2 separate regions of the Homo sapiens genome follow, and region 2 is linked to region 1. Evidence: fine-mapped expression QTL. Tissue or cell type: whole blood. Region 1 holds a variant in brackets; the other region holds the start of a gene. All regions are shown on one strand. Distances are between the middles of the regions. Region 1 overlaps LOC105378198 (a long non-coding RNA gene). Region 2 holds the start of DND1 (DND microRNA-mediated repression inhibitor 1).

Region 1 (4,390 bases):
TAACAGAAGTGGTCAATAAAACTAAAATTGTGAGGAGTGAAACAGAGGAGTCCATTTTAGTTATAAAAAAATTAAACCAAGAGAGAAATCATAAATTCCATACAAATTGCTGAGGGTCACTATCTAGAGTCTGGGGGTATTCTTTAAGGTAATGGAGTATTTGATTAACAAGGAGCATGGTAACTATGTTTTCTAAAGTGAGGATTATAGGCTCTGGGAAAGGGATTTTGGACTTGGAGGTGGATGAGAAATTTTAGAAGTATCTAAAAATGGAATACAAGGGTAAGCATTGTAGCACAACATAGGATCTCCAGAATACATAATATTCCCAACGTCAGGGTAATCAGTCAATAACGCAGGTACTTGAGGCAATGGCAATGGTAATTTGTCTTAAGTCAAAAGTGGGCGAGTTAAAATACAGCCCTGGTCCAGCATCTTGGACAGGCAGTCCACCTCAGCTGTCATCTTCTTCTCAGCCATGAGGTGGAACCCTAGTCTAAGTCTGGTGTCAGATACTGGTGTTGAGGTCCAGTCTTCCGCGGAGGGAAGAACTTCGTTATTCCAAGTGAGAAATTGGTATTCAAATATGTTAAAGTCTTTTCGATAGAAAGCAATTTGGATTATAGCTTATTGCAAATGTTTTTAGAGAAGAATTAAAAACAGTAACTGTAGATGACAAAAACTTAGAATGGCTATGGTTAAAATCTAATGAAAGTTCTCAATTGACAAGAACATTTAGTTATTTACATTATATGTAGTATTTTAAGATAACAACCAAAATTATGACTGATAACACATTAGATCTTTCTGAATTTATATAAATTTTGAACCATTTATATCAACAACATATCATAGTGTAATTAAAAGAAGATCTAGTATTGCTTATTATTTGACAATGTTTTTATATAATTTACCAAATAAGCCTAATCATTTAAAATATCTCTATAAAATGAGAGATATATCTGTTGAAGCTTTTTAGGGGCCCAATTAGAAAATCTTAAAGTTAATTCTAAGTAAAAAGACTTAATTTAGGATTGATTTTGAGGATGTTTGTCAAAGATGTTAAAAGGCCCAAAATATTTGATCAAAACAGGATCACGGGTCATTGTAAAATAATATTCATTTAACCGAAGTGACAATCAAAAGACTTTAAAAGTAATACAGAAAGCTACATAAACATAAAAATATTAATCTTCTTAAAACTCAGTTTTCTGACTTGGTGCAGTGGCTCACGCCTGTAATTCCAGCACTCTGGGAGGCCGAGATGGAGAATTGCTTAAGCCCAAGAGTTTGAGACCAGCCTGGGCAATATACTGAGACCTCATCTCTACAAAAACCTTTAAAAAAAAATTAGCCTAGGATGGTGGCACATGACTGTAGTCCCAGGCGTTTAACTGTAGGAAAGAAAGTCTTGAAGCAGTTAATGAGGTAGGGGAGTTTTGAGGTGTGACCGAACTCTTACCTTGCCAAAGCCATAGAATCCAGCTTTTAAAGTTTTCTGGGGTCTCTTTTGCAACAAGGAGTCCATTTCATCTTGCCTGGGGACCTACGGGCTTTATTTTTATTTCACAGAGGGAAAAAGGGAACCTCATAACTGGTCAGCATGGATAAAAATTTTGTCCCCTATTTGGCCTTCTTTAACACCACGTTGGTGGGGTCTTGGGGTAACTTCTTATAGCCGCTCAGTGGTGGAAGTTTAGGCTCCTACTCAGCCTTTGCTGAAGTGGGTGGGGCCATAGTTGTTGGAGTGTGTGTGTGTGTGTGTGTGTGTGTGTGTTTGGTGTTTGGCTGGGGTAGAACAGTTATTGTCTAAGAATTTTATGTCTTTCTAAGCTGTCCTCTTCCTGATCCTGGTCCTATGAATAGAGAAAGCAGACTTTTGCTGGGGCTTTTAAAATCTGC[G/A]TCCATTGGCATTTCCAGATTGCCAGCTTCTTCAGTTCCAAGTCTGGAATACAAAAGGAAAAAAAAACTTACGACTGTGTTGTACCTTGAGTCTTGAGATCCCTAGCTGGTCTGCCTTTTGTCTGCCTTTCATTGTATTACATTTGTTTTATGTACAATGCTTTGGGGTTTTAGCAGGATGAATGGGGAATATTACATTTACTCCACCTTCCTGGAAGCAGAAGTATGTGTAATATTTTGAATAAATACCATAAACTATTCCATGCATTCATGAAATATGCAATTTCTCATTCACCAATGTAAATGGCTTGATTCACCATTATAGAACCATGCATAAGTACAACAAGGAAGTTTTATTTAGGGAAACTCAAGCAAAAATAAAAAGGCAATTTGTCAAATGTAAAAAGGTATTTGCCTGCAAATATAAGAAGTATAGACCAAGCGCAGTGGCTCACGCCTGTAATCCCTGCATTTTGGGAGGCCAAGGTGGATGGATCACCTGAGGTCAGAGTTCGAGACCAGCCTGGCTAACATGATGAAATCCCGTCTCTACTAAAAATACAAAAAATTAGCTGAGCGTGGTGGCACGCACCTGTAATCCCAGCTACTCACTCAGGAGGCTGAGGCAGGAGAATCACTTGAACCCAGGAGGCAGAGGTTGCAGTGAGCCGAGATCCTGCCACTGCACTCCAGCCTGGGCAACAACAGCAAAACTCCGTCTCAAAAAAAAAAAAAAAAAAAAAGAAGTATAATAAACACTTTCTATGTTCCAAACCTCTTGCTAAGCACTGTTGTAGCTCTCATAACCTATACTATATTGAGGAGCCCAAATTGCTTTCGAAAGTATTTCTACTTTCAAAAGTATTAAGTCTTTTGACTTACTTTCCATACAGCAATGCAAATAAGCAACTGCTACGCACAACAAAATAGATGAATCTAGAAACATAATGAGGGTCTTTGGCCATACCATCTTGAACGTGCCCGGTCTCCTCTGATCTTGGAAGCTAAGTAGGGTCAGGCCTGGTTAGTACCTGGATGGGAACATAAGGAGGAATGAGAAAATCAGTCACGTATTATTCCATTAATACAAAGTTGAAAAAACAAAACAATCGTAATATTAGAAATCACCTCAAGGCTTTCTTCTGAGGACAAGTGTGAGAGAAGTGACTACAGGAGGCTCTAGAAGGGCTTTATGGAACAGTCCTATTTATAGACATGTGGTGATTTCATGGTTTTCTTTACTTTGTATTAATTCATAGAGCTGTAAATTTATGATTTGGGTACTTTTTTGAAAATATACTATTTTATCTAAAGATGTATTTTTAAAAAAAGACGCACACTATTCAGCATTCAAGGTTAAATAAGAAAATACATTACGTGGGCCGGGTACAGTGGCTCACGCCTTTAATCCCAGCACTTTGGGAGGCCGAGGTGGGCAGATCACGAGGTCAGGAGATCAAGACCATCCTGGCTAACACGGTGAAACCCCGTCTCTACTAAAAATACAAAAATTAGCCGGGCGTGGCGGTGTGCACCTGTAGTCCCAGCTGCTGGGGAGGCTGAGGCAGGAGAATGGCTTGAACCCGGGAGGCAGAGCTTGAAGTGAGCCGAGATCGCGCCACTGCACTCCAGCCTGGGCGACAGAGCAAGACTCCGTCCCAAAAAAAAAAAAAAAGAAAAAGAAAAAGAAAATACATTATGTGAATTTATTCTATATACTTAAAATGAAGATTTTGTCTTTTTTCATGAAAATACAATGAGGTACCAAATTACAGCCATAAAATTGACAAAAATTTTTAAAGTTGTACAATGCCAAATATTGGGGACATGATACACTGCTGGTAGATGTGTAAGCTGGTAGAAATACTTTGGAAAACCACTGGGCAAAACTATAGAACTGAAGACATGAATCCACTAAATACTTAGCAGTTTGACTCCTAGGTATGTACCCTGGAGAAATATATGCTGAAGTGCCGCAGGACATATGTATAAGATGGGAATATCTGTTTTTTCTGGGTTTCAGTTATTATGAACAATGAACCAAAACTAGAAATGCTACAAATATCCATCAATATTAAAATGAATAAGTAAATCATCTTATATTCATTAAATGGAATAGTAACCCACAACATAAACAAAATGGATAAATCTTACAAATGTATTATTGAACAAAAGAAGCAAAACAAAACAAACACTTCAATATAACTATATTTATGAAAGTAATCAAAATAGGAAAACTAAATTATAGCACCCAGGCATTCATACATAAGTGGTAAAGATATAAAGAAGAGTGAGAAAATTATTATTATAAAAATCAGGTAAATGGAGGGGGCGGGCACAGTGGCTCACGCCTGTAATTCCAGCACTTTGGGAAGCCGAGGTGGGCGGATCACTTGAGGTCAGGAGTTCGAGACAAGCCTGGCCAAAATATTGAAACGCTGTCTCTACTAAAAACACAAAAATTAGCTGGGCATGGTGGCACATGCCT
Region 2 (4,390 bases), 60 kb after region 1:
TAGTCAGGAGGCTGAGGTGGGAGGATCACTTGAGCTTGGGAGGTCGAAGCTGCAGTGATCACACCACGGCACTTCAGCCTGGATGACAGAGACCCTGTCTCAAAAAAAAAAAAAAGGTACTACATGGAGATAAGCTTGAAGTTACTGTAAAAAAGCTACCTTTACTCTTGCCCTAAGTTATTTATTCTGATACGTCCTATGTACAAGTCAGTCAGTTCAGTCCTCATATCTACTAAAAGCTACCTTTATGCCCAAGGTGCTAGATGAGAAGACAGGGCCCCTGCCCTGGTAGAGCTGAGTTGGGCCTGGTCTCAAAATCCCGACTAGAGCCTGCTTTGTTTGCTCCTTGAAGGTGTTAGCCCAGCTCTCTTTTATCTGCCCCTTCCCCAGGCTTTGGAGGAGAAGATACGGACCACGGAGACACAGGTGCTTGTGGCATCTGCACAGAAGAAGCTGCTAGAGGAAAGACTAAAGCTTGTCTCAGAACTGTGGGATGCTGGGATCAAGGTATGGGAGGCAAGCCCCAGGGTGGCAGCAAACTTAGGTGTGCTGGACACAAACTGAATAAAAGCTCACCCATAATGGATCCTGCCATTACTTCTCAAAAGTAGAGCTAAGAACAGGGTGCCAGCTTGGACACCCTCTGTCCCTGAGGACAGCAGAAGCCAGCCTTCATCTTCTGCTCTTGTCCCCTGCAGGCTGAGCTGCTGTACAAGAAGAACCCAAAGCTACTGAACCAGTTACAGTACTGTGAGGAGGCAGGCATCCCACTGGTGGCTATCATCGGCGAGCAGGAACTCAAGGATGGGGTCATCAAGCTCCGTTCAGTGACGAGCAGGGAAGAGGTGAGGGAGGTGGGCAGGAAGGCTAAGGGACAGAGAATGTATGCCATTTTGGCAGGCCCATGCCCATTCAAGACCTGAGAAAAAGCCTGGCATTGATATTAGTACAACTCATAAAAGCCTTGAGGGCTTAACCTGTTACTGTGGTCTTAGTAGGGTGAGATCTCCATCCCTGCATATACCTTATGGTTTGTTGGCTCCCCCAAGAGGCACACTCTAGCCTGAGGTGTTTAATTAGGTTCCTGCTCCCAGCTGAGACAAGCCTGATGCCTAGAGGGCTAGAGGAAACTAGGCACTCGGGGAGCAGTGGAATGGAAGATGCTTATACCACCTTCTTCTCCCATCCTGGCCAGGTGGATGTCCGAAGAGAAGACCTTGTGGAGGAAATCAAAAGGAGAACAGGCCAGCCCCTCTGCATCTGCTGAACTGAACAAACTATCAGAGGAAAGGAAGTGGGACTGGCACTATTTGAGGTTAAGACAAACTGCATATGTACTTCAATTGCTTTGCACTTTTCCGTTTCAGCGGAAGACCTGAAGAGTGGTCAGAACAGAGCCTTTGATTTTTATTATGGTTATTTTATTGATTATTACTGGCAAAAACGGCCAGGTACAACACCTTTTTCATACAAGGCCCAGGAGGCTTAGTCCAGTCTGTGCTCCTGGGCTACAAGGACCCAGCCTGAGATGGTCCCATCTGCAGGGCCCCGCACCAGTTGGAGCAGATGCCTCCCCACCACCAATTGCCAAAGGTCCAATAAAATGCCTCAACCACGGAGTCTGCGTGTGTCAGTGATGCCTAGCCCCGCCTTCCCCAGCAGACCAATGTAGGGATGGAAAAGGGAGAAAAACAGTAAACTTGTGACCCTGAGGTTCTTGTCTCCAGCGTCCACCCTGCGGCTTGGGAGCTCCTCCTCGGGAGGCAGCCCCCGTACATACGCACCCGCGACTTTGCAGCTTTCACCTGAAGGTCTGAGCGAAGCCCGGGCGGCGCACGTGCAGTGGATACCTCCACCCCCCTGGGAGGCGGGGTCGCGCTCAGAGCCAATGAGAGCTTGCGGGGTGGAGGGGTAGGGAAGCTTCCAGAGGCCGGTGGGGAGGAAGTTATAAAGAGGGTACGAGGGGGCCAGCTGGAGAGCCATGCAGTCCAAGCGGGATTGTGAGGTAAGCGGCTGGCGACTTGGGGGCCGGCGAGCCCCGCCGGAGCGGGGGTCGGCTTTAGGGACCCCAGTACCACAGGAGAGGTGGGGGCGCGCTTGGCGATCCGCCATTCCAACCTTCCTTTCCCTCTCAGCTGTGGTGTGAGAGGGTGAATCCAGAGAACAAGGCGGCGCTGGAGGCGTGGGTCAGGGAGACAGGCATCCGCCTGGTGCAGGTGAACGGGCAGAGGAAGTATGGCGGGCCACCCCCAGGTACGGTAGTCCCAGCCCCTCCGCCTGTCCGGCTACACCAGCCCCCTTTGGGGGAGGGGCTGCTCCGAGCCTTCACTGTCAGAAACTGCGAACTACCCGGATTTATACCCCCCAGCAAAGGAGGAACTGTGGCTCCACGTCCACCCGCCCCGTCGAGGGAGGGGGCCAATCTCAAGGTGTACCTACTCTGTGCCAGCCCCCTTGTTAGCGCAGTCACCTAATTATGCCAACCACCCAGGGTACGGGTGTAAACCCATTTCACAGACCTTTGTTCACATCGCCTCCCACCCCCGCGCGCTGGGTCCGTGGGCTCAGAATTCGAAAGCGTCGCCTGACGGTGGCCTTGCATACCCTCTTCCCACAGGCTGGGTGGGCAGCCCGCCGCCAGCTGGGTCAGAGGTGTTCATCGGGCGGCTGCCTCAGGACGTGTACGAGCACCAGCTTATCCCGCTGTTCCAGCGCGTGGGCCGCCTCTACGAGTTCCGCCTGATGATGACCTTCAGCGGCCTGAACCGCGGCTTCGCCTATGCCCGCTACAGCTCGAGGCGCGGCGCGCAGGCCGCCATCGCCACGCTGCACAACCATCCGCTGCGGCCGTCCTGCCCGCTGCTCGTGTGCCGCAGCACCGAGAAGTGTGAGCTGAGCGTTGACGGCCTGCCGCCGAATCTGACCCGCAGCGCGCTGCTGCTCGCGCTGCAGCCGCTGGGTCCCGGCTTGCAGGAGGCGCGGCTGCTGCCCAGCCCCGGACCGGCGCCCGGGCAGATCGCTCTGCTCAAATTCAGCTCGCACCGGGCCGCTGCCATGGCCAAAAAGGCCCTGGTGGAAGGTAGGCTGGGGCGGGGGTGCTGGTTGGGGCCAAACGCGTTCTGCCCGGCACTTTATACTGAGCATAGCTGTTAAAGTTACAAGATCTTAGAGTCAAACATGCCAGAATTTGCAACCTTTTACTATTTGATCTCAGATTTTTAAAACTTCCAATGGTGCTACCACCACCGCTTACCTAAATTTGTGACACTTCCCGAGCATTACCTCCTGACTTAATTCTCAACCTTCCCCCACCCCCACACCGCAAAATAGGCACAGGACCCTCAAGCTATGAGGAAACTGTTAGAGAAATTGATTTGCTCAAGGGAATCCAACTGAGCTTTTTACTACTATAGAATCTGTTTCCTCAGACTGTTATGAGAATTAAGTAACATAATGGGTGTACGGTACTTAGCACACTGACTGACTTACAGCAAGTTTTCCCAGTAAAGATTAGCCATTATGATGGTTATGAGGCAGACAAAGCCTGCAATTAACCAGTACTTCTCCAAGGAAACTTGTAAGGTAGCAGTGTGTTATACTCCCTTTGCAAATAATGGAGGCTGAAGGCTTCATTGTCTTTTCTTACCCATGGTCACACTACCAGGAAATGGGAAGGCTACAAATAACAGGACTGTGTAGCTCCAAAGGGCTCACCACCTGGAGGCTTGGGCCCAGGGTTTAGACCTGCCCTTGTCTTTGCATTTTTCCTACAGGGCAGTCACACCTCTGTGGAGAGCAGGTGGCTGTGGAGTGGCTCAAGCCAGACCTGAAGCAGCGACTTCGCCAGCAGCTTGTGGGTCCCTTCTTGCGGTCCCCACAGCCAGAGGGCAGCCAGTTGGCTTTGGCAAGGGACAAGTTAGGGTTCCAAGGGGCTCGGGCTACCCTGCAGTTGCTGTGCCAACGAATGAAGCTGGGCAGCCCTGTGTTCCTCACCAAGTGTTTGGGCATAGGACCTGCTGGCTGGCACCGCTTCTGGTACCAGGTGGTGATTCCTGGGCATCCGGTGCCCTTCAGCGGCCTCATCTGGGTTGTGCTGACCCTAGATGGCCGGGATGGGCATGAGGTGGCCAAGGATGCTGTGTCTGTACGGCTGCTGCAGGCACTCAGTGAGTCTGGGGCCAACCTCCTGTGGTCTGCTGGGGCTGAGGCAGGTACCATGGTTAAACAGTGACTCCATTCTTTCTCCACAGGCACCCTGAATGGGCATGCAGAGCCTGTGTCAGGCCCCATCCCAGCAGGCCTGGGTGGCCACTTTCTGACCCCCAAAGGTGGGGAGGGGCATGGGCCCAGGCCCATCAGCCTCCCTGCTGGGACAGGGACCTATGGCACC

What was found. PIP is the estimated chance that this variant, and not a neighbour inherited with it, causes the effect.
Region 2: DND1 starts here. The variant in region 1 is the best candidate, but not a certain one, in a credible set for the expression of DND1 in whole blood (INTERVAL, PIP 0.53).

The regions. Positions count from the first base shown.
Region 1 is chr5:140,730,640-140,735,029 of GRCh38, reverse strand. LOC105378198 (a long non-coding RNA gene) reads right to left here. Exons shown (of 4, transcript XR_001742904.2): 2 at 2,870-2,933; 3 at 1,463-1,945. Among named protein-coding and RNA genes, the nearest start is that of ZMAT2, 32 kb to the right of the region's middle. The variant G/A (reference allele first, on the strand shown) is at 1,903.
Region 2 is chr5:140,671,134-140,675,523 of GRCh38, reverse strand. It overlaps DND1 (DND microRNA-mediated repression inhibitor 1), which reads left to right and starts at 1,948. Exons shown (of 4, transcript NM_194249.3): 1 at 1,948-2,005; 2 at 2,136-2,253; 3 at 2,618-3,079; 4 at 3,774-4,390. The coding sequence starts at 1,982. The coding sequence ends at 4,231. WDR55 (WD repeat domain 55) reads right to left here. Exons shown (of 7, transcript NM_017706.5): 7 at 3,179-4,390. HARS1 (histidyl-tRNA synthetase 1) reads left to right here. Exons shown (of 13, transcript NM_002109.6): 11 at 391-507; 12 at 699-845; 13 at 1,196-1,619. The coding sequence ends at 1,267. RefSeq lists enhancers at 1,483-2,278, 2,279-3,074.